2 separate regions of the Homo sapiens genome follow, and region 2 is linked to region 1. Evidence: fine-mapped QTL for protein levels in blood plasma. A gene starts in region 1. The other region holds a variant in brackets. All regions are shown on one strand. Distances are from middle to middle.

Region 1 (16,290 bases):
TGTTAAAATGTCAGCCATATGTTCCACAGTATGATCAATGAGTGGCTACTTACTATTACATGCACGAGTATGTGGTTAAAAGGGACCAAGCAGATGGGGGCTTGGTGGCTCATGCCTATACTCCCAGCACTTTGGGAGGCTGAGGTGAAAGAATCACTTAAGAATTTGAGTTTATATATTATTTTCTATTCCCTCAGGAACAAAAAAGTTAAACTTACCTATGCAACATAAATCTGAAGATTACACATTCAAGACAGGATTTGAATTATGGATTTGACTCACGCAACCCATGTTATAAATTCTAACTATAAGGTCTCCAAAGTAAACATGTATTTTATTTATTTTTATTTTTTTGAGATGGAGTCTCACTCTGTCATCCAGGCTGGAGTGCAATGGCATGATCTCGGCTCACTGCAACCTCCGCCTCCTGGGTTCAAGCAATTCTCCCACCTCAGCCTCCCAAGTAGCTGGGATTACACGTGCCCACCACCATCCCCGGCTAATTTTTTATTTTTAGTAGAGAGGGGGGGGTTTCATTATGTTGGCCAGGCTGGTCTTGAACTCCTGACCTCAAGTGATCCACCAGACTTCGCCTCCTAAAGTGCTGGGATTATAGGCATGAGCCACCGGTCCCAGCTGGGACTCATTCATCTTTGAACACTGATTACTTAACAGAGTACAATCTGGCATATATGTTTAATTAATGTTTGTTAAATAAATTAACAAATACATAAATCTCATCACTCTGCTTCTCAAAATTTTCATTAATGTCCCACTGTCCACAACAGAAGTTACAAACTCAAACACCTACAGGCACCAGGCAGGAAATATAAATGAGTAAAGGTGTGTGTAAGACAAAAGGAACCGGTGGGGATTGCAGTAAACTGGAGAGCATGTGTCCCATCTAAAGGGGCAGCTTCTTGCTATTCCCACCAACTGCTACCATAATGGAATGTAGGCTCCATACTGCCAGGTCTTCTGATTTTTCAAGGTAAGCTGAAAGCACAGATTTCTTTGTAAAATCTGCTGATTTTTAAATGATGACAACTAATTCCATTTAAAAACCCCCAAAAACCTACCATTCAGGCCAAACGAAACACATTCTATGAGCCAAGTCCAGCCCTCAAGTCACAAGCTGGGGCCTCTAGTCTGCAGGATAAAAGACAAACTCCCTGTCTGACATTCTAAGTCATTCACAATGAGTTCCCAGCCTACCTTTTTAGAGTGTTTTGCCTACTTGTTCCATACAATAACCCTCTGCTCTAGTCTAGTGGTTCTGAAACTTTAGCACGCATCAGAACCACCTGGAGGGCATAGACTGCTGGGCCTCATTGCCAGTATTTCTGAATCAGTAGGTCTCAGGTGGGGCCTGTGAAACTGTAGTTCTAATAAGTTACCAGGTGAAGCTGATGTTACCGGTCTGTGGACCACACTTTAGGAACCAATGCTAGAGTTAAACTACTCCCTATTTTAAGCATACTCTGAATTGTGCTCACATTGTTCTAACTTCCCAGAGGAACTTCCCTCTCCTTTCAGTCCATCTCCTTCTATAAACTTTCCCTGACTACGACAGTCTTAAATGCCTCCAAATTCTATAGCACCTAGGGTTTGGGCCAAGCTTAGTCAAAACCCACAGCCCATGGGCCGCATGTAGCCCAGGATGGTTTTGAATGCAGCCCAACACAAATTTGTAAACTTTCTTAAAATATTATGAGATCTTTTTTTGTGATTTTTTTTTAAGCTCATCAGCCATCATTAGTGTTAGTATATTTTATGTGTGACCCAAGACAATTCTTCTTCTTCCAATGTAGCCCAAGGAAGCCAAAAGATTGAACACCCCTGGTCTACACCATCTCTCCTTTATCAATCCCTGCTTGGTACTGTTTACTGTTAAGTGTTTGTGTATGGGTGACAATAAGGTTGTATATTCTCAGAGATCAACATCCAGGTCAGAGCTTTATACATCTGACTGTAAACAATTTGAGGGCAAGGGCCTTCTCTTGTTCCTTACTGTACCCATGAAGTTATCAGACAGGCTGTTATACAGTTGGTATTCATTAAATGTTTCTTAAATGAATGAACATTTGACAGATCCATGACATAAAAATGCAGACAAGTGGGCCTAAAACTTAGGTAATTTTTCATTGCTTTTTTTAAAAAATAGAGACAGGGTCTTGTTATGTTGTCCAGGCCGGTCTCAAAATCCTAGGCTCAAGCAATCCTCCTACCTCGGCCTCCCAAAATGCTAGGATTATAGATGTGAGTCACTGTGCCCAGTCCAGGTAAGTTTTCTTAGAGAACTTTTAGTCTGTGGCTCTGTTGGGATGGACAACTAATAAAAATGGGATATTTTGCAAATAAAGGAACAGTAGTTAATGATTATTTGTAGGCATAGTGGTGCACGCCTGTAGTCCCAACTACTTGGGAAGCTGAAGTAGGAGGATCTCTTGAGCTCAGGAGCTTAAGTTCAGCCTGGACAACATAACAAAACCCCATTTCAAAAATATATGGCCAAGCATAGTGGCTCACAACTATAATTCCAGCACTTTGGGGGCCTGAGGTAGGAGAACCATTTGAGCCCAGTAGCAACAGAGTGAGATCCAGTCTTTACTCCCCCCCCCCACAAAAAAAAGTTAGCTGGGCATGGTGGCACAAGCCTGTGCTCCTAGCTACTCAGGAGACTGACATGGGAGAATTGCTTGACCCCAGAAGGTTAAGGCTGCAGTGAGTCATGATTGCACCACTGCACTCCAGCCTGGGTGACATAGTGAGACCCTGTCATTCATTAACAAATAAATAAACAAATAATTATCTGTGGTAACATATCTTGTATATAAGTAAAACATTGAATGTTTTAAATTTTTAAAAATTTATCTAAAAGTGATAAGATTAAATCCTTGACCGCCAGGATTTCTTAAAATGCCCCTGCAGAGATGTGAACTAGTCTTAATATCACGAGAAAATGTCAATTTAGTAGAATTCTATATTTGCAGCACATGCAATAAAAAAGCAGGATGAAAGTAACTCCTGGCCAGGTGTGGTGGCTCAAGCCTGTAATCTCAGCACTTTGGGAAGCCGAGGCAGGCAGATCACTTGAAGTGAGGAGTTCAAGACCGGCCTGGCCAACATGGGGGTGAAACCCTGTCTCTACTAAAATACAAAAATTAGCCGGGCATGGTGGCAGGCATCTGTAATCCCAGCTACTCGGGAGGCTGAGGCAGGAGAATTGCTTGAACCTGGGAGGCAGAGTTGAAGTGAGACAAGATTGTGCCACTGCACTCCAGCCTGGGCGACAGAGCAAGACTACCTCTCAAAAAAAAAAAAAAAGAAAGTAACTCCCATAAGAAACAGTTTGGATAATAATATATTTATTCAGGATTCTAAAGGCTATGTAGAAACAAAATCTAAAGTTGTTCACTTAGACTGATCCACCTATAAAGTACCATCTGCTATAAGGTGATCTCAAGAATGATTTATGAAGGGAAACATGGCCTCTAAGGTAAACCCGAATAAAGTTATAGATGAATTTATAAAGTAAACCCAGTTTTGGACCTACTAGAAGAAAAAAGCAGAAGTACTACCCACCCCCCGCCCCCCCTTTTTTTTTTGAGAAACAGTCACACCATTGCTCAGGCTGGAATACAGTGGCACGGCTCACTGCAGCCATGATCTCCCTGGGCTCAGGTGATCCTCTGAACTCAGCCTCCTGAGTAGCTGGAACTACAGGTACATGGCCACCACACCCAGCTAATTTTTGTATTTTTTGTAAAGACAGGGTTTTGCCATGTTGTCCAGACTGGTCTTGAACTCCTGGGCTTAAGCAATCCGTCTGCCTTGGCCTCCCAAAGTGTTAGGATTACAGGCATGAACCACCATGACCAGCCAGAAATTCTATCTATTTTGATACATAATAGTTCTAAATTTTATATATGGCTTGTTGGACAAAATTAACATCACTTGGCAAAAAACAGAGAATTAAATTCAGGAAAAAAAGAAAACCACCATTCAGGAACATTTGAAATACATTTATAAATTTAAGCTAGTGGAGATATTACCTTACATCTGGATACAAGTCCTACCTAACAGCACCATAATGATCTTGTCTGTATGAGGATTCAGCCAAGACACTCCACATTTCTTTGTTGACCAGGAACAAGGAAAACTGGACAGAAAAAGAATTACAAAACCAAGTCAACAAAACATGAAGTGGCTTATTCCAAGTTTAAAAGCATTAGTGTTCTAAACAATGAAACAAGGAAAATTTATTTAGTAATAATTCCTGGAACTTCATAGTAAAGGCACCTACCAGTAACTGTGGAAGGAAATGCTACCAGATAAACTACTAAATAGCAACTTCCTACTCTACTATCTGTACTATCAGTTGTTGCTCACCAGCAGATGACAGTAACAACATCCAGTTCTTTGGTAGAAAATGAGGGGATTCAGAAGAATGTAGACTCTATATCCACCTCTACCAGAGTATGAAATCTTGGCATTTCCCTGAGCCATATTCATGTCACAACAGCTTTATCTACAAAATCAAACTTAGTCAATAAAAAATATATATAATACAATAAAATAAACTAGGCCAAGTGTGGCGACTCATGCCTGTAATCCCAGCACTTTGGGAGGCCAAGGCAGGAGGATCACCTGAGCTCAGGAGTTCAAGACCAGCCTAGGCAACATGGCAAAACCCTGTCTCTACAAAAAATACAAAATTAGCCAGGCATGGTGGTGCATGCCTACAGTCCCAGCTATGCCAGAGGCTGAGGTGGGAGGATCACTTAAGTCCAGGAGGTCGAAGCTGTAATGAGCCATGATCCTGCCACTGTACTCCAGCATGGTTAAGAGTAAGACCCTATCTCAAAAAAACCATCAAAAAACCCAAAAACCAATAAAAGAAACTATAAAGTACTATAACTAAGGTACTACGCATACATTAATAATCTTGTTATAGTCAAATTTTTATGTTCATACATTAATCTGTAAGCCTATGTTCAAATGAGGAGTCTTGGACTGACTTTCATATTATAAAGTTACCAATTTCTAGAATAAATTCCAAATATACAGCCTGTGACAGAAGATGCCCTACTCTCTTTTCTGCAGCTTATCAACAGTGTGCTTTTTCAGAACCTTACACATACAAAATTAATGGTAACTTTATAGATTTTACATCAGAGATAAACTCTTCAATATATGGCGATTCCGCCTATGGACTCACGGGAGTGTGAAAGTATACCAGAAATACACTCAGAAAAAGCTATGATCGGCCAGGCGTGGTGGCTCACGCCTGTAATCCCAGTACTTTGGTAGGCCGAGGCGGGCGGATCACCTGAGGTTGGAAGTTCGAGACTAGCCTGACCAAAATGGAGAAACCCCGTGTCTACTAAAATTACAAAAGTAGCCGGGCATGGTGGCGCATGCCTGGATTCCCAGCTACTCGGGAGGCTGAGGCAGGAGAATTGCTTGAACCTGGGAGGTGGAGGCTGCGGTGGGCCGAGATCGTGCTATTGCACTCCAGCCTGGGAAACAAGAGCGAAACTCCATCTCAAAAAAAAAGAAAAGAAAAAGCCATGATCATGCTGGCAGATGGTATGTATAATAAGGTTTACGCCAGCCTGACCAACATGGAGAAACCCTGTCTCTACTAAAAATACAAAATTAGCCAGGGATGGTGGTGTGTGCCTGTAATCCCAGCTACTCGGGAGGCTGAGGCAGGAGAATCGCTTGAACTGGGAGGTGGAGGTTGCGGTGAGCCGAGATCGTGCCATTGCACTCCAGCCTGGGCAACAAGAGCAAAACTCTGTCTCAAAAAAAAAAAAAAAAAATTTTACAGCCGGGGGCGGTGGCTCATGCCTGTAAATCTCAACACTTTGGGAGACCAAGGCGGGTGGATCACCTGAGGCCAGGAGTTCAAGACCAGCCTGGCTAGCATGGTGAAACTCTGTCTCTACCAAAAATACAAAAATTAGCCTGGCATGGTGGCACGCACCTATAGTCTGTTACTGGGGAGGCTGAGGCAGGAGAATTGCTTGAACCCGGGAGGCAGAGGTTGTGGTGAGCCGAGATTGCGCCATTGCACTCCAGCCTAGGCAACAAGAGCAAAACTCTTGTCTCAAAAAAAAGGTTTACAGCCGGGGCGGTGGCCCACGCCTGTAATCTCAACACTTTGGGAGGCCGAGGCAGGTGGATCACCTGAGGCCAGGAGTTCGAGACCAGCCTGGCCAGCATGGTGAAACTCCATCTCTACCAAAAATACAAAAATTAGCCGGGTGTGGTGGCATGCACCTGTAGTCCCACTTACTGGGGAGGCTGAGGCAGGAGAATCGCTTGAACCAAGGAGGTGGAGGTTGCAGGGAGCCGAGATGCCCCACTGCACTCCAGCCTGGGTGACAGAAGACTCTCTCTCAGAAAAAAAAAAAAAAAAGTTTACAAGGCTTATCATTACCAAATCGGCATGTTCCCTCAGAAGAAACAGAAATTCAGAAACAGAAACTATGCAAGTGGGAAACAAGGCGGAGGGGAGTAATTAGAGGTCAAAGACATCGGGAAGGAGTGTACGGATTAAGTCCTCCCTAGAGAAATGGTGACGAAGGATCTACAACCACATTTAAAATAAACTTTTTAATTTGAAATGGAGTATAACAGAGCAGAGCTTCAACCACAAGTCTCCTAACTATTGGCTTGGCACTCAGAATACCGTACCTTCCTTAATGACTCACTGACTGACTCTCATTGAAAAATGAGAATACTTGTGAGTACACTCCTTTTCAGAGGTGTATTCGGGATTTCAGGAGTCGGGGAGGCAAGTTGAAGAGCTTCCAACTTTATGCAACTTTCAGGAAAGAAGGCTGCGGACCGGTATTAGCAAATGGAAATCCGGGGGGCGGTCGTGGGCAGGAAGTATCGGCCACACAGGACCTAGTGAGGCCGAGGACCCTGCTCCCGACCTCGGTGGCAGCACTCCCCTCCCCGCCCGGCTCCCTGGCGTGCCGCTGCTCTTCGGAGGCTGGCAGCCTCGCCCTCAACCACCGCCCTCGGGAAAGTCCTCGACTGCCTATCAAAAAACATTTGGCCTGGGACGTCCGCTGGCTGCACTATCCCTTACAGAATCAGCAAGGGTGAAAAGCCAGGAAAGAGATGCAACCCAAAGGAGTAAGGCAGTGCCGGGAGCGGCAGAAGCGGAGCGGGGGCGAGGGCAAGGTAGCCGCGGCCACGCTGGCTGCGGCATGGAGACACGGGAGGAACGGGACCCGCGGGCGGCACGGGAAAGGGCTGCGGCTCAGACCACTGCGGCGGGACGGGCGGATCAGCGGGGATCTAAGTCTCCTGAGGCAAGGGCGCCCCGACCGCAGCGACTCCTGACACACCCAGGCCGCAGGACGAAGCGCTACCGCCTGGGGCTGCCAGCTCCCGCCTCCCGCCCGCAGAGCCCGGGCCCCACGTAGAGGATCCGGCGCCGCCGACACTCGCACACTCACCGCGCGCGCGCCACCCTTGCGCGGCAGCCCGCCGCCCTCGGCGCGACCTCCGCCCCACCCCGCGCGCCGCGGCGCCTGGGCTACGTCACGGGCGCGTGCGCTCTCCGCGCGCCGTCAGCGGCGCGGGTGGGGCATTGCCAGCTCGGCGTCCCGGTTCCCTTGGAGACAGAGCTGGCCAGGGCGGCCGCGGCTGGGCAACTACGACAGCGGAGCCCCTGGGGAAGCCAAGATGCCGTCGAAGGGAAAGGACAAAAAGAAAGGCAAGAGCAAAGGCAAAGACACGAAGTAAGGAGAAGCCACCCGAGAGTCCCCTCTCCCTGGGCCTGCCTGGGATTTCGGGTCTGGGGCTGGCAACCTGGCGCCCCCCGCGCCGGCCCACTCGGACCCTCTCCCCGGCTCTCCCGGCTTGTGAGGATTACAGCTCCCATGTCCATAGTCTGGCAGATCTCTACTATGTGTTCAGATTATCTTAAACGTGTAGAGGATGTATAAAGTAGTTCCTTGGGCCTTTTCAGAGATCTCTTTTGGTTCAAAGGGGACACCTAAAGTATTTTACCAAGTTGGATAATTATTGAGGTTTTCCCAAACTGATCAGAGCCACTGAGGTGGGTAATGTTCTAGCACTAACCCCTTACAGGCCTGGAGTTGCTGCTAGATTGCTACTAGCCCTATTGGGGGACCCCGGTGGTTTCTGGACACGTTGGAGTCATACGTGGTGTCCAGCAACAACACCATATATGGGAACACAGAGTTGGCACCAAACTTGAGATGTTTGTAAAGTAACTTAAGAGAGTAATTCATGCTCAATACAGAAAGTTTGGGAAACATGGGAAGTACCAAAAGAAAAAACAAAAATCACCTGTAGTCTCATTATCCAAAAATAAACACTACTATATTTTGGAGTATTCTTTTTTAATAAAACGATAGCCCAATGTACATACTTATATGTGGCTTTTTTCTTCCCATTTGTTAATGTAAGTATTCTTTTATGGTATTTTTTTTTTGTTTTTACATAACTGCACAGTTAGTCTAGCCCTTAAAGTGCCAAGGGCTTATCACATTCCTAGAACTCACTAACATATGTTTTCAGATTTTGACCATGCTTCTACAGTACACATTTGAACAATGAGGAACACTAAGGGTAAGAGACCTTATTCCTTGGATTTTCCATGACCCATTGTTTGAGAAACCTGGCTTTGTTTCTACAGTGAGTATCAGTGGTCCTATTAGAGTGTCTAATTTCTTGCATCAAGTACTTTTTTTTTTTTCTTGACACCAAGTTTTGCTCTTGTTGCCCAAGCCGGAGTGCAATGGCACGATCTCAGCTCACTGCAACCTCTGCCTTCTGGGTTCAACCAATTCTCCTGCCTCAGCCTCCCGAGTAGCTGTGATTACAGGCACCCGTCACCACGCCCAGCTAATTTTTTTATTTTTAGTGGAGACAGGGTTTCACCATGTTGGCCAGGCTGGTCTCGAACTCCTGACTTCAGGTGATCCACCCGCCTCGGCCTCCCAAAGTGCTGGGATGACAGCCGTGAGCCACCATGCCCTGTCGCATCAAGTACTTCGAGCCACTCAGACCTGATACCTGGATGGTCGTAGTGAGACAGTGTATCACTAGTGCCTAAATCATGCCAGAAAGGGACATCAACAGCTATAACAGGCTGAGGGGTTGGGAATGGAGCTGGCCTTAATTTGAAGAGAACAAAAGGTGAAAGTGGGACTTTGGTTCTCTCCACTGCAAACCCATTACCTCTGTGGAAGAGGACTGAGAACCAGAGGTAGGAAAGTGGATGTGGAGGGTGGCAGTATAGAAAGGTCCACATGTACATATGTGTGAAAATATTTAGAATTCAAATACAGGTGAAATATTCTTAAATATGTACATATTTATATATCATGGTACCTACCATATATAAGGGGGAGTGTTTTGTTAATGCTTATACAATAAATATTTAGAAAAATCTCTTCCTTTACCACTTTAATCTTTGAATCCATCCTTTTTCCTCTCCACCTCTATATAAATGATTATGGTTTCTCAGGCATCCTTAAAGCCCGGTGGGTGGGGCATCGTGGCTCATGCCCAGCACTTTGGGAGGCTGAGCAGGGGAAGATCACTTGAGCCCAGGAGTTCAAGACCAGCCTGAACAACATAGGAAGACCCTGTCTCTACAAAAATTTTTATTAAAAATTAGTTGGGCATGCTAACTCATGCCTGTAGTCACAGTTACTTAGGAGGCTGAGGTGGAGGATCGTTTGGGCCTGGGAGGTTGAGGCTGCAGTGAGCTGTGATGGTGCTACTGCACTACAGCCTGGATGACAGAGCAAGATCTTGTTTCAAAAAAAAAAAAAAAGTCCGGTGAACTGTGGCACCAGCTGATAAACTATTTAACGTATTTGCCCTAGTGACTTGACTTTTTGTCCAAGACCTAGCCCAAAACAAAACAAAACAAAAACACCATCCTGGCTAACACGGTGAAACCCCGTCTCTACTGAAAATACAAAAAATTAGCCGGGCCTGGTGGCGGGCTCCTGTAGTCCCAGCTACTCGGGAGGCTGAGGCAGGAGAATGGCATGAACCTGGGAGGCGGAGCTTGCAGTGAGCCGAGATCACGCCACTGCTCTTCAGCCTGGGTGAAAGAGTGAGACTCCGTCCCTCCCCCAGAAAAAAAAAAAACACACTCAAAAGTGGAGGGTAAAGTGGGTGGGAGATCACAGTTATACTACCAATGGGTATCATCATGCAGAAACTGAACAGAGATAATGGGTTTGCAGTGGAGAGAACCAAAGTCCAGCACTGAGTGAGTAGGAATAGAAAAGATAGTTTAACTACAGGAGAATCAGGCTAGGGCACTGGTTCACACCTGTAATCTCAGCACGTTGAGAGGCCAAGGTGGGAGGATACTTGAGCCCAGAAGTTGGAGACCAGCATAGGCAACATAGTGGGACCCCATCTCTATTAAAAAAAAAATAAATATGGGAGAATCAAATAAGTAAATGAAAAGGTATAAAAACTGCCCAAGCGCAGTGGCTCACACCTGTAATCTCAGCACTTTCGGAGGCTGAGGTAGGAGGATCACTTGAGCCCAGGAGTTCAAGACCAGCCTGGGCAACATGGCAAAAACTCATTTCTACAAAAAGTACAAAAATTAGCTGGGCATAGTTGCATGAACCTGTAGTCCCAGCCACTTGGGAGGCTGAGGTGGGTGGATGGCTTGAGCCCAAGAGGCAGAGGTTCTGGGGAGCCGAGATCGTGCTACTGCACTCCAGCCCGGTGACACAGCCAGGCCCAGTTTCAAAAAGAAAAAAAAAAGATATGAAAGCTTTCTGAAATGAGTTTGGCTTATCCTGTCTTTTCCCTTTGTTTTACCAGTCTTTTCGAGTTATGCTCCAGGACTCCCCTCCTCCAGGAAGAGGCACTTACTTAATTATCTTATGTGAATACAAGTGAATATGTATTTCTTTTTTTTTCTTTTTTCAAATGTGAATATGTATTTCTTATTAACTTATTCTTCCAACAATATTTGATCATGTGTGCCAGGCAATGCCAAGCAAAACAAATAAAAAAAGAGAAAAATTTAATAGTAATATAATAGAGTTATATACTATCTGCATATTAGAGTTGTATAAATAGTCATATACTGTCAATATCCTCTTCCCATGCAGGAAGTTAATAAAAACAGATGAATCTGTGGTGGACAGAGCCAAGGCCAATGCCTCCCTTTGGGAGGCCAGGTTGGAAGTCACAGAACTCTCTAGGATTAAGTATCGTGATACTTCACGGATACTGGCAAAAAGTAATGAGGACTTAAAGAAAAAGCAATGTAAAATGGAGAAAGACATAATGTCAGTATTAAGTTACCTGAAGAAGCAGGATCAGGAGAAAGATAATATGGTAGGTAGGTAGAAAGCCTCCTTGGCCTCATTAACTACCTCTATGGTGATGCTGATGTGGTTATGTATTTCAAAGATTTTTAATTCCTTGAAATCTTAACATATACTTAAGACATTTCAATTGACCTTAACTCTGTTTGAAGCAAGACACTTTTTCAGAATGGTTTTACTGTTATCGGCTCTCTTTTATTTTCAATCCTTGTTGCATGTTTTCTTGTCTGAAGCAAACAGAGATTGATGATCATAAGGGAACTTTATGATCTACTTTATTTTAAGGATAAGAGCATGGTATGTGATCTATATATTTTTTGATGCTGATTTTTAGTTTTAAAAATTTGTAAAGCAGTTCACTGATAATCCATGATAACTTTCTGAACCCAGCAAGTTGAATCTTTATTTTTATTTTTGGCCAGTTGAATCTTGTATCTTATTGTACCTTATTAAAGTGTTGAGAGTAAAGCTATCATTTTATATTTGGAAGAAAAAAGGAGGCCGGGTGTGGTGGCTCACGCCTGTAATCCCACCACTTTGGGAGGCTGAGGTGGGCAGATTGCCTGAGCCCAGGAGTTCGTGACCAGCCTGGGCAACACAGTGAAACCCCGTCTCTACTAAAATACAAAAAATTAACCGGGCATGGCTGCATGTGCCTATAGTCCCAGCTACTCGGGAGGCTGAGGCAGGAGAATTGCTTGAACCCGGGAGGCAGAGGTTGCAGCGAGCTGAGATCATACCATTACACTCCAGCCTGGCAGCCTGGGCGACAGAGCGAGAGACTCCATCTCAAAAAAAAAAAAAAAAAAGAAAAGAAAAGAAAAAGGGAAGGGAACTAACATTTTGGAGCCACTACAATGTACTATACTGGGTGCTTTACCTCTCTTGATTCTTTTACTAACCTCCTATTTAATTATTTTTATGACCCCATGTAGCTATAATATTGTTATTTCCATATTACAGATGAAGAAATTGACTTTCAGAAAGGACAGGTAACTTGCCCAAAGTCACACCCCTAGTGGGTGTTAAAAGTGGAAATTCAGGCTGGGTGTGGTAGCTCATGCCTATAATCCCAACACTTTGGGAGGAAGAGGCTGGAGGATAACTTAGCTTAGGAGTTCAGGACCAGCCTGGGGAACAAAGCAAGACCCAGTCTCTACACAAAGTAAAAAATAGCCAGGCGTGGCAGTGTGCACCTGTAGTCCCAGCTACTCGGGAGGCTAAGGCGGGAGGATCACTTAAGCCCAGGAAGTTGAAGCTGCAGTGAGCCATGGTCATGTCACGGCAGTCCAACCTGGACATCAGAGCAAAACTCTGTCTCATATTATTATTACTTTATTATTATTTTTGAGACAGGGTCTCTCTCTATTGCCTGGTCTAGAGTGCAGTGGTATGATCACGGCTCACCACAGGATCGACATCCGGGCTCAGATGATCCTCCTGCCTCAGTCTTCCAAGTAGCTGGGACTACAGGCACGCACCTCCATGCCTGGCTAATTTTTTGTATTTTTGGTAGAGACAGGGTTTCGCCATGTTGCCCAGGCTGGTCTTGAACTCCTGAGCTCAAGTGATCCACCCGCGTTGGCCTCCCAAAGTGCTGGGATTGCAAGCATGAGCCACCATGCCTGGCTGATTTTTTTGTAGTTTTTGTGGAGATGGGATTTCGCCATGTCGCCCAGGCTAGCCTCGAACTCCTGGGCTCAAGAAATCCTCCCAACTTAGCCTCCCAAAGTGCTGACATTACAGGCATGAGCAATAGCACCTGGTCCAGAAATTTCTATCTTTATTTTATTTTATTTTTTGTATTTTTAGTAGGGACGGGGTTTTGGCATGTTGTTGGCCAGGCTGATCTGGAACTCCTGGCCTTGAGTGATCCGCCCACCTCACCCTCCCAAAGTGTTGGGATTACATGCATGAGCCACAAAACCTGGCCAATTTTTATTTTTAAAATTACTCTTTTAATAGTAGGTATTATTAAATTGCCCTCTATAAAGTATTGTTCTAAAGTAAGTTTTTTTAGTCAACCATAGAAATAATTTCCAAATGTGTTACTTAGATGCTTTGTTTTGTGGCTTGTAATAGCTCATTGTTATTGGTCTACATCAGTATCACTTGTACTTCCTGATTCTCATCTGCCTCCTTATATCAAAGGGCAGCATCTGGCAGTAACAGGTGGGTAATTTTTATAATCATGGATTGCCATTAAACCAAAAGAAACAACCTTGGGAGGAAGAAACAAAGTAGACTAAATATATCCTCATTAACTAGCTTTCCCATAGTTTTGTTACTCATTTTGCTATATACTAGAAAAATGTTATGTTGTTAAACTTTGTTTAAACTGTTTATAGTCATGTTAATTATAGAAATAATAGAAATGAAATGTGTTTTGAAAACTATTTTATTATGAACAAAATTAGGAGATTCCCCTTAAGAGAATTTAATGCTGTACTGAATTAATCACAGAATAATCTCATTAAATGTCACACCAGTTTTATGTGATTTAGGATTGTCCCAGTTTATTTTTTAGAATATCTAGATTTTTTCCTAAGGTGGTCTAAAACATTGTACATAGTATCTCACTTGTGTCAACAACCATGTCAACAAGTCTTTAGTTTAAAAAGCTACTCAGATTCCCTTCTAAAACAAACCAGCATTCCTTGGAGAAATGGTTGATTTCAGGACTGGAACAGGGAATATAAAACATGAGGCTGGGCTGTTCATGGTGGCCCATGCCTGTAATCCCAGCACTTTGGGAGGCTGAGTGGCGGGGTGGGGGGGGTGCATCACATGAGGCCAGGAGTTTGAGACCATCCTGGCCAACAGAGTGAAACCCCATCTCTACTAGAAATACAAAGAATTAGCTAGGCATGGTGGTGCGTGTCTGCAGTCCCAGCTGCTTGGGAGGTTGAGGCACGAGAATTGCTTGAACCCAGGTGGCAGAGGTTGCAGTGAGCCAAGATTGTGCCACTGCAGTCAAGCCTGGGCAACAGAGTGAGACTCTGTCTCAAAAAAAAAAAAAAGAGAGAGACTGGGGGCGGTGGCTCATGCCTGTAATCCCAGCACTTTGGGAGTCCAAGGCGGGTGGATTACTGAGGTCAGCAGTTTGAGACCAGCCTGGCCAACATGACGAAACCCCATCTCTACTGAAAATACAAAAATTAGCCAGGTGTGGTGGTGGGCACCTGTAATTCCAGCTACTCAGGAGGCTGAGGCAGGAGAATCATTTGAACACAGGAGGCGGAGGTTGCAGTGAGCCAAGATCATGCCATTTTGCACTCCAGCCTGGGCAACAAGAGTGAAACTCCATCTCAAAAAAAAAAAAAAAAAAAAAAAAGAGTCTGGAATATGTTATTGTGCCAGAAAATAAAAAATTTTAAAGGACATGGCCTTGTTTGAAGGGGCTTCCATTGGCCAAATCTGGGACAATCAAAATATTAGGTTGGTGCATTAAAAGAATGGCAAAAACCACAATTGCTTTTGCACCAACCTAATAAATAATAGCAAAAATGGCTGGGTGCAGTGGCTCACACCTGTAATCCCAGAACTTTGGGAGGCCGAGGTGGGCAGATCACCTGAGGTCAGGAGTTCAAGACTAGACTGGCCAACATGGCAGAACCCTGTCTCTACTAAAAATACAAAAATTAGCCGGGTGTGGTAGTGTGCACCTGTAATCCCAGCTACTCAGGAAGCTGAGACAGGAGAATCGCTTGAACCCAGGAGGTGGAGGTTGCAGTGAGCTGAGATTGCGCCACTGCACTCCACCCTCAGGGACAGAGTGAGACTCCATCTCAAAAGGAAAAAAAAAAAATGGCAAAAACTGCAGTTGCTTTTGCACTGACCTAATAAATAACAACAGTAATAGATTATAACCTATTGAATGAAATAAAAATCCACGAGTGTGTACTACTAATAAACACATACATGAATAAATAAGGGAGAAAGGAAGCCTTTTTTTTTTTTTTTTTTTTTTGAGACAGAGTCTCGCTCTGTCACCCAGGCTGGAGTGCAGTGGTGCGATCTTGGCTCACTGCAACCTCAAAGGATCACTGCAAAGGATTCTCCTGCCTCAGCATCCTGAGTAGCTGAGACTACAGTTGTGCCACCACCCCGCCTGGCTAATTTTTGTGTTTGTAGTAAAGACGGGGTTTCACTGTGCTGGCCAGGTTGGTCTCGAACTCCTGACCTCAGGTGATCTACCCGCCTCAGCTTCCCAAAGTGTTGGGATTACAGCCATGAGCCACCTCGCCCAGCTTTTTTTTTTTTTTTTTTTTTTTTTTGCAGAAGAATGCCAATTAATAAATTTCCAAGGAGTGATGGAGTTAGAAAAATCACCATTTGGCATCACAGTAATAACTGAATCAGTCAAGAATCATCAATGGATGCTAAAACCTACTGGGTGAAAGTTTGATGAGGAGGATAATTGCATAGTCTCAAAAGATTGTACCACAAATTACTTAATAATCACAGAAGAAAAAATAATAACTTTTAGGTGGAGAAAGTGGGCAGACACAACCTTAACCAACTGGTTAAAATTAGCATCAATCACCTAATGATGTGATGTACTGAAAAGGATACATCATCACTTAGGTACTATATATAACCTACCAAAAACATACAACCTGAATCTACTCATGAAGAAGCATCAGCTAAGCCCAACCCTGGCCAGTATTCTTTTTAAAAAGTCAATTTAAAAACAAAGACCAAGAAACTGTTCCAGATTAAAGGGGACTAAGACACATGACAGATAAATGCAACGCATGATCAAGGGTTGTATTGTAGACAAGAAAAATAAAAAATTGCAATAAAGGACATTATTGGGATAATTGTAGCAGAATTTAAATATAGAGTATATATTACATAGTAGTATATTAATGTTAGACTTCCTGATCTTTATAATTTTATAGTGCTTGTAAAAGGGAATGCC
Region 2 (16,290 bases), 190 kb after region 1:
TAGTGCCATAATGTCAAATTCTTCCTTTGCTCTGTTTTTGAGAGTTGATGACATCAGGCACTTTTCAGTGTTTGGGGAAATTGATTGGGATACCTCCCCCAAACCAACTCAAGTCTGTAACTGGAAGCCAGGTGGTTGGTTTTCTGGTCCGCTTTGTCCTCTTTCTTTTACCGTCATCCTATTCACCAGCACTTAATGTAAGTAGATGTTTTAGAATTGCAATATTTATTGGTTTAGTATTTGTCATCCTTAGAAATGTTAATGATGTATTTTTATATTGATAATATAAATTTATGTACAGTATGTGTGTATATGTATTTCAGGATGTTATAGTATTGTACTTTGTATGTGATGGTTTTTGTGTCTTCATAATAAATATGTCCCTTTTACAGGAGGGTGAGTTTTTCCTCAGAGGGCCGAGTTGGATATTTAAAGCACAGACCTCCCCAGAAAGTACAACTGTAATGATAAATAATCTACTGTTTTCCCCCTTAATATACTTAATGGATAGTTGGGGGCTTTACAGTCATCTACTTGGTCTCCTGCCTTCCATTCTATCCTACCACTGCCCAACACCCGAAAGTAGTATTTAGAAACCCTTAATACCTTCCCGTGTCTACTAATAAAGTCTCAATCTCTTGACCCGGCATTTTAAGACTCTCTACATGTAATCCTAAGCAACCCTTCCGTTTCGTTTTCTTCCTCTCCTATATATGAAGTCTCTGTTGCAGTTACTCTGAACAGTTCCCAGTTTCTCACTTGAGTGCCTTTGCTCCTGCCTTTGAGTTCCTAGAAGGTCTTGGATCCCTTTTGCATCTGGCAAACCTATGCTTCCTATAATCTCCTGATGATCCAGCTGGAAATGGTCCTTCCCCTACATTCCTATAGCATTTACCCATATCATCCCTGTGACTCTTACCATAGTCTGCCTTATATTTAAGTGGTCTGAGTACTTTTTCTTTTTGAGACAGAGTCTCACTCTGTTGCCCAGGCTGGAGTGCAGTGGTGCAATTTTGGCTCACTGCAACCTCTGCCTCCCGGGTTCAAGCGATTCTCTGCCTCAGCCACCCTAGTAGCTGGGATTACAGGTGCATGCCACCACGCCCAGCTAATTTTTGTATTTTTAGTAGAGACGGGTTTTTGCCAAGTTGGCCAGGCTGGTCTCGAACTCCTGGCCTCAAGTGATCCTCCCGCCTCGGCCTCCCAAAGTGCTGGGATTACAGGTGTGAGCCACTACGCCTGACACTGAGTACATATCTTATTGCCCTACTAAATTCAAAGCTTCTCAAGGTATAGCTGTCTCCTGCACATCTAGTTCTTCAGTGTCTTTGAACTAGGGGTTCAAAACCTGTTTGCTTGCAGGCTTCTGGTTACACATGATAGATTGAAAACAAGTATTTATCTGCCATCTTCTAAATCCCTTAGTGTGGGTTCCTTTTCAACCATGTTCAAGAACTAGAAAAGAGGAAGTACTCATTATTGCTACTGCTATCACTCATTGATAGTTTACCTGCTCTGGACCAGAATATGCCCTTTTAAAGAAAGCATTTCATTTTAAGGAAAGCAAATTGCTTCTCATCATAGGCCCATCATTTATTTCCAAAAAAGACATCTGGATGAACAGTAGATTTCTGTGATCTAGAAAAGCATGGCTGATTGACTAAGTAGGGACAGTGTTAGGAGTGTTCTAAGTCTTTAGAGACTATTTTTACGGTAAGTAATTGTTTATTATTTGCCTACAGATATTTTTTCCCTTTTCCTTTGCCATTCCAAATACCATCCTGTAAAGCATCTGTCAGCTGTGAGCAGCAACATTCTGAAAAGCATAGTATTGGAGCTTGGAGACACATTTGCAAATTCTTATTGACATTTTTTTCTTACCAGCACTCTCATTATTTCTTGCTGTCTTCAGTCTCACAGATTCTAGGCCTCTGCTGATTTGCTTGGCCTGCCTTCCATAGGTTAGAACACTTAAAGTTCACAGGGTATTAATTGTGTTGATATTGAAATGCCATCATTCATTTTTATCTTTCCATTTTTGTCATATTTTTTAAATGGATGCTTGCTAACTGCTCCGTGGTTTTAGTTCTCTAGCTGCTCTTCTGGATGCTCCCAGATCAAGGCAGTGAAAATGGAACTGATGAAAGTCATTCCCTTGTCCCTGTGGCTTCAGAAGTGTGTTTGGACTTCCACAGGAGCTTTGAAATGAAGCCGAGAAATTTCATTTCCAGTGGGATTCCCTGACCCCTCCTGTTTCCTCCAGGATTAAGACATCACAAGAAGGTGAACAGGCAGAGCAGGAAGTGAGGAAATGGACAGTTGGGCCAAGGTGGATGGTCGCAGAAGCCAAATAACACAGTCTCTTACCAGTTCTCAGCTTCTGCACTAACTCCGTCTCCAAGAATTTGGTTATGTTCTCCATTTTCTGTTTTCTTCATCTCGTGAGAGCTACAAGGATACCTGGTCCCTATGTGGGCTTTGTTTCACCAGAGAGTCTTGCAACCCCCAACCCCAGAGAGTGGCAAAGGGTGGTGTCTCCACGGTTGTAAGTTCTGATGGACTGGAACTGATTTTTCCTATCTATGTAGGCTTTTTGGCATTTGGGGTGTGTGTCCTTGTCTATGCCTAAAGAGGCCACTGGCCTTCCCACCCTTTGCCTGGCGCTTTTTCCTCTCGAGCAGCTGGGGGCTTCAGACGATACCAGGTGTAACTGTGAGGCTCCTGGTTGGCGTGAGTGCTGGCAAAGCCTGTTAATTAGCACAGAAACACCCCAGTGCTCCATTAGCTGGGCCAGGCATTTGGAACCTTCCCCTCCTGTGGGCCCCTTCCTCCTAATGAGAGCTGGAAGAAGGGCCCTCACAAAACACTGCCTCAGAATAATATTCTGCTTTGTCCCCACCAGTAACCAGGGCTGACAGGATCACTCTGTCCATTTCTCTTCTAATTAGCACAATTCCAGCATGGCCTGAGCCAGCAAATAGAGAAAAGCGATCAAAAGCGATCGGACAACCGTACCGAATCACAAACACAAAGAGGGCCATTCCCTGTAATTAGGTGAGACAATTCCTCAGTCTTTTCTCGGCTGGAGTTTGCCGCTAAGACTCTTGCTGTTTGGGTCCCAGCAACACAAGTTACATGTCTCCCTGGGACACTAATAAGCCCCAAATTGTCTTCCGCTTCACACAACTCTACCCAGAGGACAGACATGGGGTGGTGGGGCAGGTGGCGGGGAGGGGGTGGGGCAGTGCAGTGAGGGGACGGGTCTCCCAACAAGCAGCTGCTGCAATGTTTCCCCAACTTCAAGAAGCAGACACTGGGGCTGTGGGCAGAGAGGTAAGAGTCAGTTGGCTTGAGAGAACTGCTCTTGGCACAGCCTGGCCCCTGTCACTTGAGCTGGAGTCTGAAGCACTGAGAATTTCTGACCCTCAGGGGAAGCCCCCTCTCAGCTATTTGCCCTACTCTGTTCATTCGCTGCCTCCTGTCTATGGCCCCCTCACTCCTCCCACCTCTGCAGACTGGTAGCATCACTCCAGGAACTACATTGAGCCCTTCACAAACTGTAAGCCCTACACAACTATAGTTACCATTGCAAAGAAAGCTAACACACAGCACGTGAGTGAATTCTGCCCTAGAAGACTGCATGACCTGGAAGGGGCACCCACTGCCCCCCTCACTCTGGCCTTCATTTCTAGCACCCATCACCTTTATGTCCCTGATTGTGTCCCCAACCCCTGCCTACTATCTCCTCTCTCCTGAAAGATCCCTGTTTTTTTAAAACAGAAAAGTGGCCCATCTGCCAGGGCAAGAAGCTGTAACTGGCCGCGCTCCATGTGGCTCAGAGGTTGGTCACTTAATGAACAAAAACAGCTCCCCCAGGATTGCAGCCCATTACGGGGATTACTTGGGGCGATACAGCCGTAAACTTGGTCATAGCCAGGGACAAAGGAATGCAGGGGAGAGTGGCAGTTGGAATCTCAATTAAACCCAAGTTCGGAGCAGAATTGGGCTCACATATTTTCATCTCTCTCTTGCCCTCTGCTTTCTGTCTCGATCTCTATACCTGATGTTTCTGAAAGTGACCTCCAATACCAAAGGAGATTCAGTTATGTAGAATCTGAGGAGCCAAAAAACTCAAGTAATCAGAGTTGCATTGTTTTTCTACCTTCAGTTTTCTGAGGCACAGAGAGGATAATGATAAGATTTGACTTTTAAAAATAACTTTTGGGACATGCCAAAGAATTGATCCAAATTTGTTCAATTTCCTACAGTTTCTTTGGTTATAAACAGAACTACCTGGCACATAATAGGTGCTAAAATAAGCATTTGTTGAAAGAATGAACTGTGCCTTGACATTCGGTGTTCATAGCCTCATTGCTGGTCTAAGATATAGTAAGTGCTTGGATTTTGAGAGAGAGGCAGGGGTGATCTTGTGTAAGTTACTTCTCTCTAAGCCTTGGTTTCCTTAGGACTTTTTCCACTTTAAAGAGTCATATCAGCATCATGGATAAGGGCACAGGCTCTGAAGTCAGGCTGCCTGGGTGCAAATAGCACCTAACTACTAGGGTAGCTGTAGAGATTAAACGAGTATTGCAAAGTGTTGAGAATGGTGCATGGCATATCTTACCCATTACGTATATAATTGCTTGATGGATAGATCTATAAAACAGATTCCATGTAGTATTTAATTTTTTATTATACTCACATTTGTTAAAAATTGACAATCCCTAGGCCGGACATGGTGGCTCACACCTGTAATCCCAGCACTTTGGGAGGCTGAGGCGGGTGGATCACTTGAAGTCAGGAGTTCAAGACCAGCCTGGCCAACATGGCAAAACCCCGTCTCTACTATAAAAAAAAAATGAAAAAATACAAAAAAATTTAGCTGTGCAGGGTGGCAGGTGCCTGTACTCCCAGCTACTCAGGAGGCTGAGGGAAGGGAATTGCTTGAACCTGGGAGGCAGAAGTTGCAGTGATCTGAGATTGCACCACTGCACTCCACACTGGGTGACAGAGTGAGACTGTCTCACACAAAAACAAACGACAAACAAAAAAAACATTGGCAATCCCTATAGGGAAAATATAGTAACTTCTGGTTACCTTGACTAGTCAGTTAAGCAGAATACCATTTCTGTAACCCTTCAGAAGAGCTGACAGTTTACTATTTCTCCTACCCCCATCCTTCCACCCACTGAGGCCCTGTGCCAGCATGGACACTCAGTAGAAACCATTGTTGACTCTACAGACAGTGGCATTAAGCAAGGGAGGGAAAGGTATACTTTGTGACATTGGCAAGTTTCTGAACTGATACTGAACTTGGCATACATAAGCCTCAAATCACTGTACTTTGCTAATCTTTGTAGTCCTAGTATTTTCTGAGCATCCATGCTTTTCCAATCACTGCACAGGAACACACTTCCCTGTTTGATTCAGTCATAACCTCCTACCCCTAACCCACCAGTCCTCCACATTCCTCCAGATAGTTTTCTTTTTCCTTTCCCTTCCCTTCCCTTCCCTCCTTCCCCCACTCCTCCCCCTCCCCCCTCCCTGCCTCCCTCCCTCCCTCCCTTCCTTCCTTCCTTTTTTTGGTGAGACAGGGTCTCCCTCTGTCACCAAGGCTAGAGTGCAGTGGCACGATCTCAGCTCGCTGCAACCTCTGCCTTCTGGGCTCAAGCAGTCCTCCTGCCTCAGCCTCCAAAGTAGTTGGGACCACAAGCACGTGCCACCACATCTGGCTAATTTTTGTATTTTTTGCAGAGATGGGGTTTCGCCATGTTGCCCAGGCTGGTCTCGAACTCCTGGGCTCAAGTGATCCGCCCACCTCCGCCTCCCAAAGTATTGGGATGAGCCACTGTGCCTGGGCCAGATAGTTTTCTATGGTGTGAGATTTGTCAGGTTCTCGCAAACCTGTCAGGTCCCTTTCCAGGACTAAGCAGGGTCCACTCAGGCTTCTGCTCCCGCAGCAGCCTCCTCTGGGCTTTGCCTTCTCTGGGAGCCCATGGAGAGACCCTCGCCTGACTGCAGCCTGAGGCCTCAGGGTCAAGCGAGGCTGAAGGTCACATCCCAGGGCCTTTCTGGACGCAGCCAAGCCCCAGGAGCCAAGCTGGCCTGAGCCAGTGACTTCACACAAAGGAGCAGCTGAGAAGAGTCAAGTTGGGAAAGTCAGTGACTTGAGGCTGAGTAGAAATGAGAAGTGCTGGCTGTGGCAGGACCCATGAAGGATATGTGAGGATTGGAACCAGAAATGATCTCTGAGGAATGGTGGTCGGGGGGCTCATGGGGAAGCAAGGTCCTGCGAGCTGCTTCACCTTGGCCTCCTACTTCCCGCCATCCACCTCTGCTGCTGCTGCCTCTGCCTTCAAGTGGCCCAAAGGCTGTTCAGATGTGCAGCTGTTGAGTAAATCATGGTACATTCCCGTAGCGAACTGCCATGCAGCCATTTGGTGTGTTTGCAAAGAGGTTATGATATCATGGAAGAAATGGTTTTGTCATAAGGATAAGTGAAATGGCCAGATATAACAATTACAGTGGGGTGGTGAATGGAAGGCAATAGGCGAAGGTGGTAATAGTGCTTGCTGCCTGGTTGGAGGAATATGGGGTATTGTTGTTTTCTTCTACATTTTCCAAACTCTCTACGGAAACAGGTATTGATTTTATAATACAGGGAGAAAAAAGCCTCTGGGGCCGGATATACAGATTTTAAAAGCCCTGCTTCTCAGCTCAGCCTGTTATCCTGCACACATGTGCATACATACATAGTTCATCGATAACCTTTGTATATGGTAATGAAATTTGTTCTTTAGTATGCAAATGTATATCAATCTGTACACCAATAAGTGTTTACTGAGCACCTAATAAGCATCCAGCTATACCCTAGGATCTCTACCTCATTGCATGTAATGTGGAAAAAAAAAACTTGTTCCCTATTCATGACAGTCCCATCTCTCCCCACACTCCTCAGAGCCTTTGCCCAGGAGCAGAAAAAAATCATTCAGTCAGTAGGTGTTCAGTGTTGCCAAATAGCTATCTTTTTCCTCAGTCTTTCCTTACCTACCCTGAGAAAATATGTCTCACCTAACTTTGCTGTAGAGTCGTAGCGTTAAGTTTCCCCCAGCTCTTGGACATGCAGCATCTTACTTCAGATGTGTTTGCGAGAGTTTCCTTCGCTACTTTCTCCTTGCTTCCCTTCCCCTTCCCAATTGGAGAGAAGGAAGAAAAGATGAGTTGGGGGTCAGGAGTAGAAATGGGTCAGAGAAGAGTCTGTAATTATACTCATGTTTTCATCACAAACAACCAGTTGGAGGCGCTGCACAATCAGGAAAGAGAAGGAAGTGCATTTCATCTGAGTTGGAGTCTGGAAGACACAAGGGATATGTAGGAGGTGGTTCTCACTTTTATTGGGAGACAAGTGTGTATATAAAGTCAGTTTCCCTGCAGGATGAGAAGCATAGTCATGGAATTGCTAAAGAAGATATAAAACCCTCAGGACCAAATGACATGAGAAAATGGAGAAGAATTGACCTTGTCCCCAAGAAGTGACTTGACCACATCAGCCCCAGGTTCCCAGAATATACAAGCCCACACATCTGACTAGGCCTGGGCTAGAAAATGGGCGGAAATTGGGAGCACTCCCCATTTTCCTTGATAGAAATAGATGGAGCAATGAGTAAAATTCTATGCCTGCCACATCTGCTGCGTCCTCCACTAATGTATGCACTTGTCCATCCTGTTTTCCAAAGAGGGACTGCTTTCTGTCCAGCTCAGAAGAGCAAAACGAAGAAGGAACAATGTCAGCCATGTGTAGCCCTGAATCCTGCCCTACCATTGCGGTCGCTCTAGGGCTTTCAGCCAGAACTGGGGTGGCCAGATCTGATCAGTCTTCCAAAGGAGCGAAGAGCACTCCAGAACAGACAGCTGAAGCAGTTGTTACAGCAGCAGGATTGCAGGGCAGGCGACGCTTCACAACATCACCAAAGACTGATGCAAATTGGTTTGGTTCTGACCCTGTCACACCAGGAAGGATAATGACTCCAGCAGCGCCAGGCATGGGAGGGAGCACGTGGTGGGGGCTGTGAGGATTGGTGTCTCACTTCACATCTTCATTAATGATCTGAAAGACAGGGGTAAACAGCATGCTAATGAAACCTGCAGATGATTGGTGTTACAAACCCCAGAGAGGACAGAGAAATAGCACAACGAGACCCAGAGAGCTTAGAAATATGGGCAGGAGACTGTCAAATGAGACTCGTCCTAGGAAAATGAAAGTCGACACGTCAGGGAGGAATGATGAAGGTGCCTCTGGGTGGGGGCCTGCAAACCTGAAAAGCAGAGATGGGTGGCAGGGTCAGGAGGTTGAGGGATATGATAAGGTTTGGGGTGTGTTGGAGGGAGACAGAGGAGCTGACCTTGAGGACCCAGGGGACAAATACCCTTGTGCATTTCTGGTCAGGACTGACCATGGGGCCAACAGTTCATGCAGCTGGGGAACCAAGCAGGTTGTACTGGCCCATTGGCCTGTGTCAGCTCCAGGACCCCTCTGCAACCCAGGACCTCTGATTTCACAGTCACAAGCTATGCCTATTTGCACCCAAGCCATTAAGGCTAAAAGCGCCATTTTGACCCGACCTGCTATTTTCCTAAAATGAAACAAGCCAAAATACATCTTTAACATTTTGCACTAAATTATTGGGGAATAGGAAATTCAAGAGCAGAGAAAGCAAAAAATGTCCGTATTTTCAAGGGTTTCCCATTCAATAAAGATTTATCAGAGCGTAACTCATTTATATTAAATCTACAAATCTTAAGTGAACAGCTCAATGATTTTTTTCCTTGACCAAATCACTTCACTTCACCAAGTCTTGGTTTCCTCGTCTGAAATGAGCATAACAGCAGAACATATCTCACAGCTGTGTTGTAAAGATTAAATTAGACTCGGTAAAGCCCCTTGGGCACAGTAAGTACTCACATATGGGGTGATTATTATTACTGTTTATTATCCTCTAATTTTATTCCTTAAGCTTTACTCTTAGCTCCCTAAGTAAATGATTAATTTCTTGAAGTCAAGGACTGCCTTAAACTTCTTTTCAGCTCATGGGTGCTGAATAAATCCTTGTTTGATGGATTAATGTGTTAGAAAATTCTTTTCATATAAATAATTTTATTCTTACCTAACTCAGATCTACTTTAAATGAAATCACTTTCTTCAAAATAAAACAAAAACAAGTAAAATCCTTATATCACAAGAGTGTTTTGAAGACAAAATATTCTGCCTTGAGTCTATGTTAACACCATGTGCTGTCTGGTGAAATTTTAGGCCAGAGGAAATCCCAGCCTGATGATTAAGAGCTCACTTTTGGGGCCGGGCACGGTGGCTCATGCCTGTAATCCCAGCACTTTGGGAGGCTGAGGTGGGTGGATCACAAGGTCAGGAGATCGAGACCATCCTGGCTAACACAGTGAAACCCCGTCTCTACTAAAAATACAAAAAATTAGCCGGGCGTGGTGGCAGGCACCTGTAGTCCCAGCTACTCGGGAGGCTGAGGCAGGAGAATGACGTGAACCCGGGAGACGGAGCTTGTAATGAGCTGAGATCGCACCACTGCACTCCAGCCTGGGTGACAGAGCGAGACTCCATCTCAAAAACAAAAACAAAAAACAAAAAAAAAGCTCCATTTTTGAGTCCAGTCGGGTTTGAATTGGGGTGACTAGCCGTCTGATTTGCTTGGAACTCAGGGGTTTCCTGGGAGGAATAACAGTCTTGACCATGTGACCGTTGATCACTCTAGTTTTAATGTGGTTTCTGCTACTTAATAGCTTTGGGGTGTGGCCTTGGATAGGATTGTTACCCTTATTGAACTTAGTTTCCTTTTCCGTTAAAGGGGGAAAATAACTACTTCACCAGGTTGTCGAAAGGATCAAGTGTCCCAGATGCGTTGGTTCACACCAGTAATCCCGGCATGTTGGGAGGCTGAGGCAGGAGGATTACTTGAGTCCAGGAGCTAGAGACTAGCTTGGGCAACATAGTGAGACCCCATCTCTACAAAAAAAATGTTTTTAATTAAATAAAATTAGCCAGCGCAGTGGTACATCCCTGTAGTCCCTGCTGCTCAGGAGGCAGTGCCGGAAGGATGGCTTGAGCCCAGGAGTTCAAGGCTGCAGTGAGCTATGGTGGCAGCATTGCACTCCAGCCTGGGCCACAGAGTGAGACGCTGTCAAAAAAAAA[GAC/G]AGGGGGTGGCAAGCATGATGCTCACACCTGTAATCCCATTACCTTGGGAAGTTGAGGCAGGAGGATCACTTGGGGCCAGGAGTTCAAGACCAGCCTGGGCAATATAGTGAAACCTCATCTCTCCAAAATTAAATTAGTCAGGCATGGTGGTGCACACCTGTAGTCCCAGCTACTTGGGAGGCAGAGGCAGGAGAACCACTTGAACCCAGGAGTTTGAGGCTGCAGAAAGTCATGATTGTGCTACTGCACTCCAGCCTGGGCAACAGAGTGAGACTGTCTCAAAAAAAAAAAAAAAAAAAAGAATTCAAAGAATATACCTTTGCCTATTCCACTTATACCCAACAAAAATGAGTTGACACCAAAAGACACGTGTGAAAACAATAGCAACTTTATTCATTCAAGTAAAAAACTGGGGAACAAAGGCCATCAGCAGGAGAATGGATAGATTGTATATTCTATGTGGAATGCCAACTGGCAATAAAGAATGAACAAACTACCATGCCGCTTCACACAGTAATATGGATGAATCTCCCAAACACGAATGAAGGGCACATACCGTATGACTCCATCTGTATGAAATTCTAGAACAGGCAGAACTAATCTATGTGATAGAAGTCTAAATAGTAGTAACCTTGGAGGTATTAACTGAAAAGGGGCCCGGGGAGCCTTCTGGGGTTTTGGAAATATTCTCTGTCTTGATCTGAGTGCTGGTTAACACAGGAGGGTATGTGTGTAAACATTCATCGAGCTGTGCAGTTAGTGGCTGCACACTTTAGGTAAGCTGTGCCTTAAAAGAAATTAAGGTTCTCTGAGCCTCTAGAGGGAAGTGTTGATGAAAGCTGATGGTTTTTATGTTTCAAACCACCCCATGGAAGCTATTTGGGGCAATAGCATAGGGGAATCTAGAGGATCCCAGACTCACCCTGGGTTCAAAGCTATGAAGTCAGAAAGAAGGACAGAAGATGGTCAACATGTCCCTTTGGCAGCTGCCACTCATGCTCCACCAGTGACTGAGCATAAGGGCTGGAGGGCCCTGTCCTGTGCCCTCACTCACCGTGACCTCAATGTGGGGGAGGGCTGTCAGTCAAACTCCAAGCCCAGATGCTGCACCCTTGGGCTCTCCTTCGAGGGAGCACCTTTGTCTACCCACCCTTTACTGAGAAATCAGTCCCCAGACTGGGGGCTCCTCAAGAGCGAGGACCAGATGTGTGTTTCTGTTTCTCCAGAGCCTGACCTATCATAGATGTTCATTGTACAGTTGCCAAATGGATGCCTCCAGTGACCTAACTCATCACTTAAATTCTTCCCAGATGGAACTGGCCACTGATCTTAAAGCCAAAGATAGGCTTTTTCACTCATGGATCATTCAGGCACTCCTTCCTAAAATAACTGGGATTCCAAGAGAGCTACCAGCATCTCTGACATGCTTCCGATCAGTGCAATTCTGATTCTGTTAGAAAGGATCTTCAGGCCGGGCGCAGTGGCTCACACCTGTGATCCCAGCACTTTGGGAGACTGAGGCGGGCAGATTACCTGCGGTTGGGAGTTTGAGACTAGCCTTTATTTTTAAAATAAAATAAAATAAAATAAATTCAGTTTCTTAGTTGCGCTAGGCACATTTTGAGTGCTCAGTAGCCACTTATGGCTACTGACTACCACTGTATTCGACAGTGCAGAACTGCATGCATTTCCATCATCATAGAAAGTTCCAGTGGACAATGATGGATTCCAGGTGATCCTCTTGGAGCCTGTAGCGGAGGGGAGGAAGGAAATAGGTGGGTAGGACTGGGCCCCCACCCCCAGTTCAACCAGAGGCACTTTGCCTATAAATTCAGATTTCAAGTTAGATTTCATTTGGGAAAAAAAAGTATGACTTTTTAAATACTTTTTGAAAAGGTAGTAAATACAAACTATATTTAAAATGAACAGATTATGAAAAAATACATCTTCTTGCCATCCCATAACCCTCAGACCACTAGTTAACAGCTTGTGGAAACTACACCTGTTCTGCAGCTTGCTTTTTTTTTTATCTTGGATCTTGTTCATATTGGTACCTAGAGATGTAACAGCTACATACTATTCCACTATATGGATGTGCCTTCAGTTACCTAGCCAGGCCCTGTGATGGACATTCAGGTCATTTCCTGTCTTCTGCTACTACGAACTATGTGGTGATGAGCAGATACCCTTGTGTTTAGGTATCTGTGGATATATCACTAGCAGGGGAATTGCTGGGTCAAAGACCACATGCATTTTAAACTTTAATATATATTGCTGAATTGCATGCCCCGTGCCCAAAAGAGATGGCAACAACAAGAAGGTCTTTTCCCCACACCTTCCACCAGGCCACTGTGATCAGGCCTGCAGGTGTCCTGCAGGGTAACGGTGGCTTATCTTGGGAGGGGGTTGCCATTGCCTCCCCACAGCACTGGGGCCCATTCCACCCAATCACTCTCTCTTCTTGTCACTCCTTCCTGCCACCAAGAATAGTTAACTTTTTATTTTAAAAAATTTTAATGGACTAGTTAACATTTGATTGAGCACTCATCAGGCCCCCGGGTACAAATCCTGCTCAGCCTGACCCTGCTCATTCAATTCACAGATTTGTCCTTTACTTCGGTGCTTCATGGACTCTTCATGACAACCTCCTGAGGCAGGTACCATTATTATTCCCATTCTACAGCGGAGAAGCCTGAGGTTTAGCGATTAAATCACTGGTTCACAGTCACCTAGCTGGTTAGTAGCAGAGCTAGGATCCAGCCCCAGGTCTGTGTCACCTCACAGCCTATGCTTAGTTCCAACAGGCTGCCCCACTCACCTGCTTCCCCTCATCCCTCCTCCCTTCATGGACACCAGCTCTCCCTCCCGCCCTCCGGCCCTGTTAATACCCCACTTCTCTTACGTGTCTTTGCTGAAGTACCCACAAGCCCTCACTCCCTGCCCACTCTCTCCCTCTTAAGGTCAGGGCAGACACCTCCATCCGGACCCTTCCTCCCTCACTGCCTTGGCTTCCTCTACTCTTGGCCTTGGGACTGCCCCACCTGAACTCCTGGGTCGGCCCAGCCCTCCCCTAGGTGATCGCCTCAGCCTACAGGGGCCGGGAGAGCTGGGGAGGGAGAAGCAGCGGCTTGCATCACCTGACCCTACTCAGCCAATTCACGAAGACAAGATGTCAAGTTAATGAGCCTGTGGGCCTCTAATTAGCTGTCAATTACCTCAAATTAATCACCTCCTCGCCTAATTAAGCATTATCGGCAGGTGGGCACAAAGCAGACCATTGTGTGAGAGCCATGAGAAAAGCTGGGCTGGCAAACTTGGTTAGGATCAGCTCTGTGCACTGCGCCCGCCTCCCCACAGCGCTCAGCCATGGGCCCAGCTGAGAGGCCCTGGGGCCCTCTGCCCACCACTGTCCCCAGACACTGGGGTACTTGGGGACCTCCTGGGAAGCTGAGTGGACTGGAAGGGAGGTACAGAGCCTAGAGGCAGGTGAGACAGCTTTGGGGCAGTGGGGCGGTAGGAACTGGAGGCCACGGAGAAGGGCGGAGCTTCAAGGCGTGGTGACCAGCTCCAGGCACTTACTGAGAGCCAAGGCGAGAGCTGGGCAGAGGGGACACCAGGTTGTGGCTGGGCGTCCAGGCCTGTGCGGGCAGGCAGAGCTGGCTTCCAATGCTGGCCTGGCCACTTGTGAGTTCTGTGAACCCAGAAAGAGACAATGTTTTTGAGCCACAGTTTCCATCCCTGGGAAGAAAATTTTTTTTGTTCTAAACACTGTCCTGGGTCTTTGTGAGGGTTCAGTAGGATCATGCTTGTGGAGCACCTGCCACATGGTAAATGTTCAATGTCTTTACTAGTGGCAACAGTGGACATGGGTGGTTTAAGACCCAGGGCCACCTCACCTAACAACTGCTGAAGCTGTATTGTATCCCCAAATTCTGAGCCCCCGGGCCTCAAGCCTGTAGTGCACCCTTGAAAAATGTGAGTGGGCTGGCCAGGCGTGGTGGCTCATGGCTGTAATCCCAGCACTTTGGGAGGCCGAGGCGAGTGGATCACCTGAGATCAGGAGTTCGAGACCAGCCTGGCCAACATGGAGAAACCCTGTTTCTACTAAAAATACAAAAATTAGCCAGGTGGCGGGTGCCTGTAATCCCAGCTACGCAGGACGCTGAGGCAGAAGAATCGCTTGAACCTGGGAAACAGAGGTTGCAGTGAGCTGAGATCGTGCCACTGCACTCCAGCCTGGACAACAGAGTGAGACTGTCTCAAAAAAAAAAAAAAAAAAAACAGGAAAGAGAAAAGAAAAATGTGAATGGGCTGCTAGGACGCACGGTTGCTGGATGCCGGGCTATCTGGCTACCACTTCCTCTCCACTCCCTCCCCATCGCCCAGCACCTTCCAGGGATCAGAGCCCCACTCACAAAGTGCCCTTGGTGCCATATGGAGCTCACCAGATGAGAAGACCACAGTTCTCTAACTAGAGACCAAGAAGAAGAGGGCCCCTTGGGTCTTGGGACTGCAGGGCCTAAAGCAAGGGGGGTCTCCAGGCAGCCCCTGGGCACTGAGTTCATGCCCCCAGCCATGGTCCTGGGAGGCTGAACAGAGTTCCCGCTCTCCTCGGCACAGGGCAGGGTGAGGCTGGGGGCCACCTGGACAGCTCTGCGCTCCCACTGACTGTCAAAGGCCACCACTCCCATGCCAGATCTGTCCCCTCACCCCACCCTAGCCGCCCCTTGTAATCTGTACCCACTACTTCAGCCCTGGCACAGGAAGACCTTTCCCTATCTCCTGTGGTAACAGAGACCCTTAGCCTCGCCGCCATGAAAGCTTGGAAACATCTTTCCTCTCCTTGGTCTCGGTCATTTAGCAAACATTGTACCTTACTAATTAAGCTCACTGTAAAGGGGTGATGGTCAGGTGAACACAAATCATTAATGGATGCTCTGGAGAGACAAAGAACAAAAAAAAGCTAGCACTTATTAAGTGCCTACTGTGTGCTGACAGGAGTGGTAAGAGATTCCGTGAATATGTTACACCTGTATATACTGTTATGTTTAATGAATTATTTATCAAAATAGATAATACATATACACACAATTTTTTAAACTAAAATAAGGGTGTAGAGGAAACCACAGGCTTCCCTCACTCCCCTGCCCTCCAGCCATCTGATTCTGTTTCCCACAACCAACCAGTAACCAGTTTTTCATACACTTTTCCAGAAATTAAAAAATATTTATATGTATATACATATTTCATTTTCACAAGTGAAATAAAACGTACTGTCCATCTTCCTTTTTTAAAAATAATACCGTCAGCCGGGCGCAGTGGCTCATGCCTGTAATCCCAGCACTTTGGGAGGCCAAGGCGGGTGGATCACCTGAGGTCAGGAGTTCGAGACCAGCCTGACCAACATGGAGAAACCCCATCTCTACTAAAAATACAAAATTAGCCTGGCGTGGTGGCACATGCCTGTAATCCCAGCTACTCAGGAAGCTAAGGCAGGAGAATAGCTTGAACCCGGGAGGTGGAGGTTGCAGTGAGCCGAGATTGCGCCATTGCACTCCAGCCTGGGCAACAAAAGCGAAACTCCGTCTAAAAAAAAATAAATAAATACTGTCTTGGAGATTGAATGTGGAATAGCAGCACAGTATTCCACTGCATGAATGTGAACTTTTTTCTTCTCTTTAAAATTACGTAAAAGTTGGCCGGGTGCAGTGGCTCACACCTAGGAGCGTCTGTCCATTAGCTTGTATGTCTGTCCGAATGGAAGTGCCTCCCTGGGCCGGGTGCGGTGGCTTACGCCGGTAATCACAGCACTTTGGGAGGCCAAGGCAGGAGGATCACTTGAGCCCAGGAGGTCGAGGCTGCAGTGAGCTGTGGAGGCACCACTGTACTCCAGCCTGGGTGACAAAGCAAGACCCTGTCTCTAAAAAACGGGGTGATGGGGCTCTTCCGAGTGAAAAGGTGGAACTACTGACCTAGTCCCACCCTGTCAGTTCACCATGAGGAAACAGGCTAGAAAAGGGGTTGACTTGTCCTTAGTCTGGAGCTGCCTTGTCAGGTTCTTCCAGGTA

Which allele goes with the higher level. Alleles are on the strand shown, and positions count from the first base shown. The strength of an association depends on the size of the effect and on how common the allele is.
As copies of GAC replace G in region 2, the plasma level of the protein whose gene starts at base 7,520 in region 1 goes down (moderate association).

What was found. PIP is the chance, under the fine-mapping model, that this variant and not a neighbour inherited with it causes the effect. Protein levels are from antibody-based Olink assays in UK Biobank. Linkage for the fine-mapping came from a reference panel and not from the study's own genotypes, which makes the PIPs less certain.
Region 2: its variant is fine-mapped to the plasma level of the ENTPD5 protein (UK Biobank, PIP above 0.99).

The regions. Positions count from the first base shown.
Region 1 is chr14:74,011,769-74,028,058 of GRCh38, forward strand. ENTPD5 (ectonucleoside triphosphate diphosphohydrolase 5 (inactive)) reads right to left here and starts at 7,520. Exons shown (of 16, transcript NM_001249.5): 1 at 7,482-7,520; 2 at 4,056-4,162. BBOF1 (basal body orientation factor 1) reads left to right here and starts at 7,581. Exons shown (of 12, transcript NM_025057.3): 1 at 7,581-7,766; 2 at 11,148-11,376. The coding sequence starts at 7,711. RefSeq lists silencers at 6,878-7,172, 7,088-7,157, 7,198-7,337, 7,348-7,417, 7,448-7,697 and enhancers at 9,978-10,272, 10,038-10,332.
Region 2 is chr14:74,200,845-74,217,134 of GRCh38, forward strand. LOC105370564 (a long non-coding RNA gene) reads right to left here. Exons shown (of 3, transcript XR_944025.3): 2 at 13,802-13,913; 3 at 8,017-8,107. LIN52 (lin-52 DREAM MuvB core complex component) reads left to right here. Exons shown (of 6, transcript NM_001024674.3): 6 at 1-649. Among named protein-coding and RNA genes, the nearest start is that of VSX2, 30 kb to the right of the region's middle. RefSeq lists a silencer at 1,329-1,529. The variant GAC/G (reference allele first, on the strand shown) is at 10,220.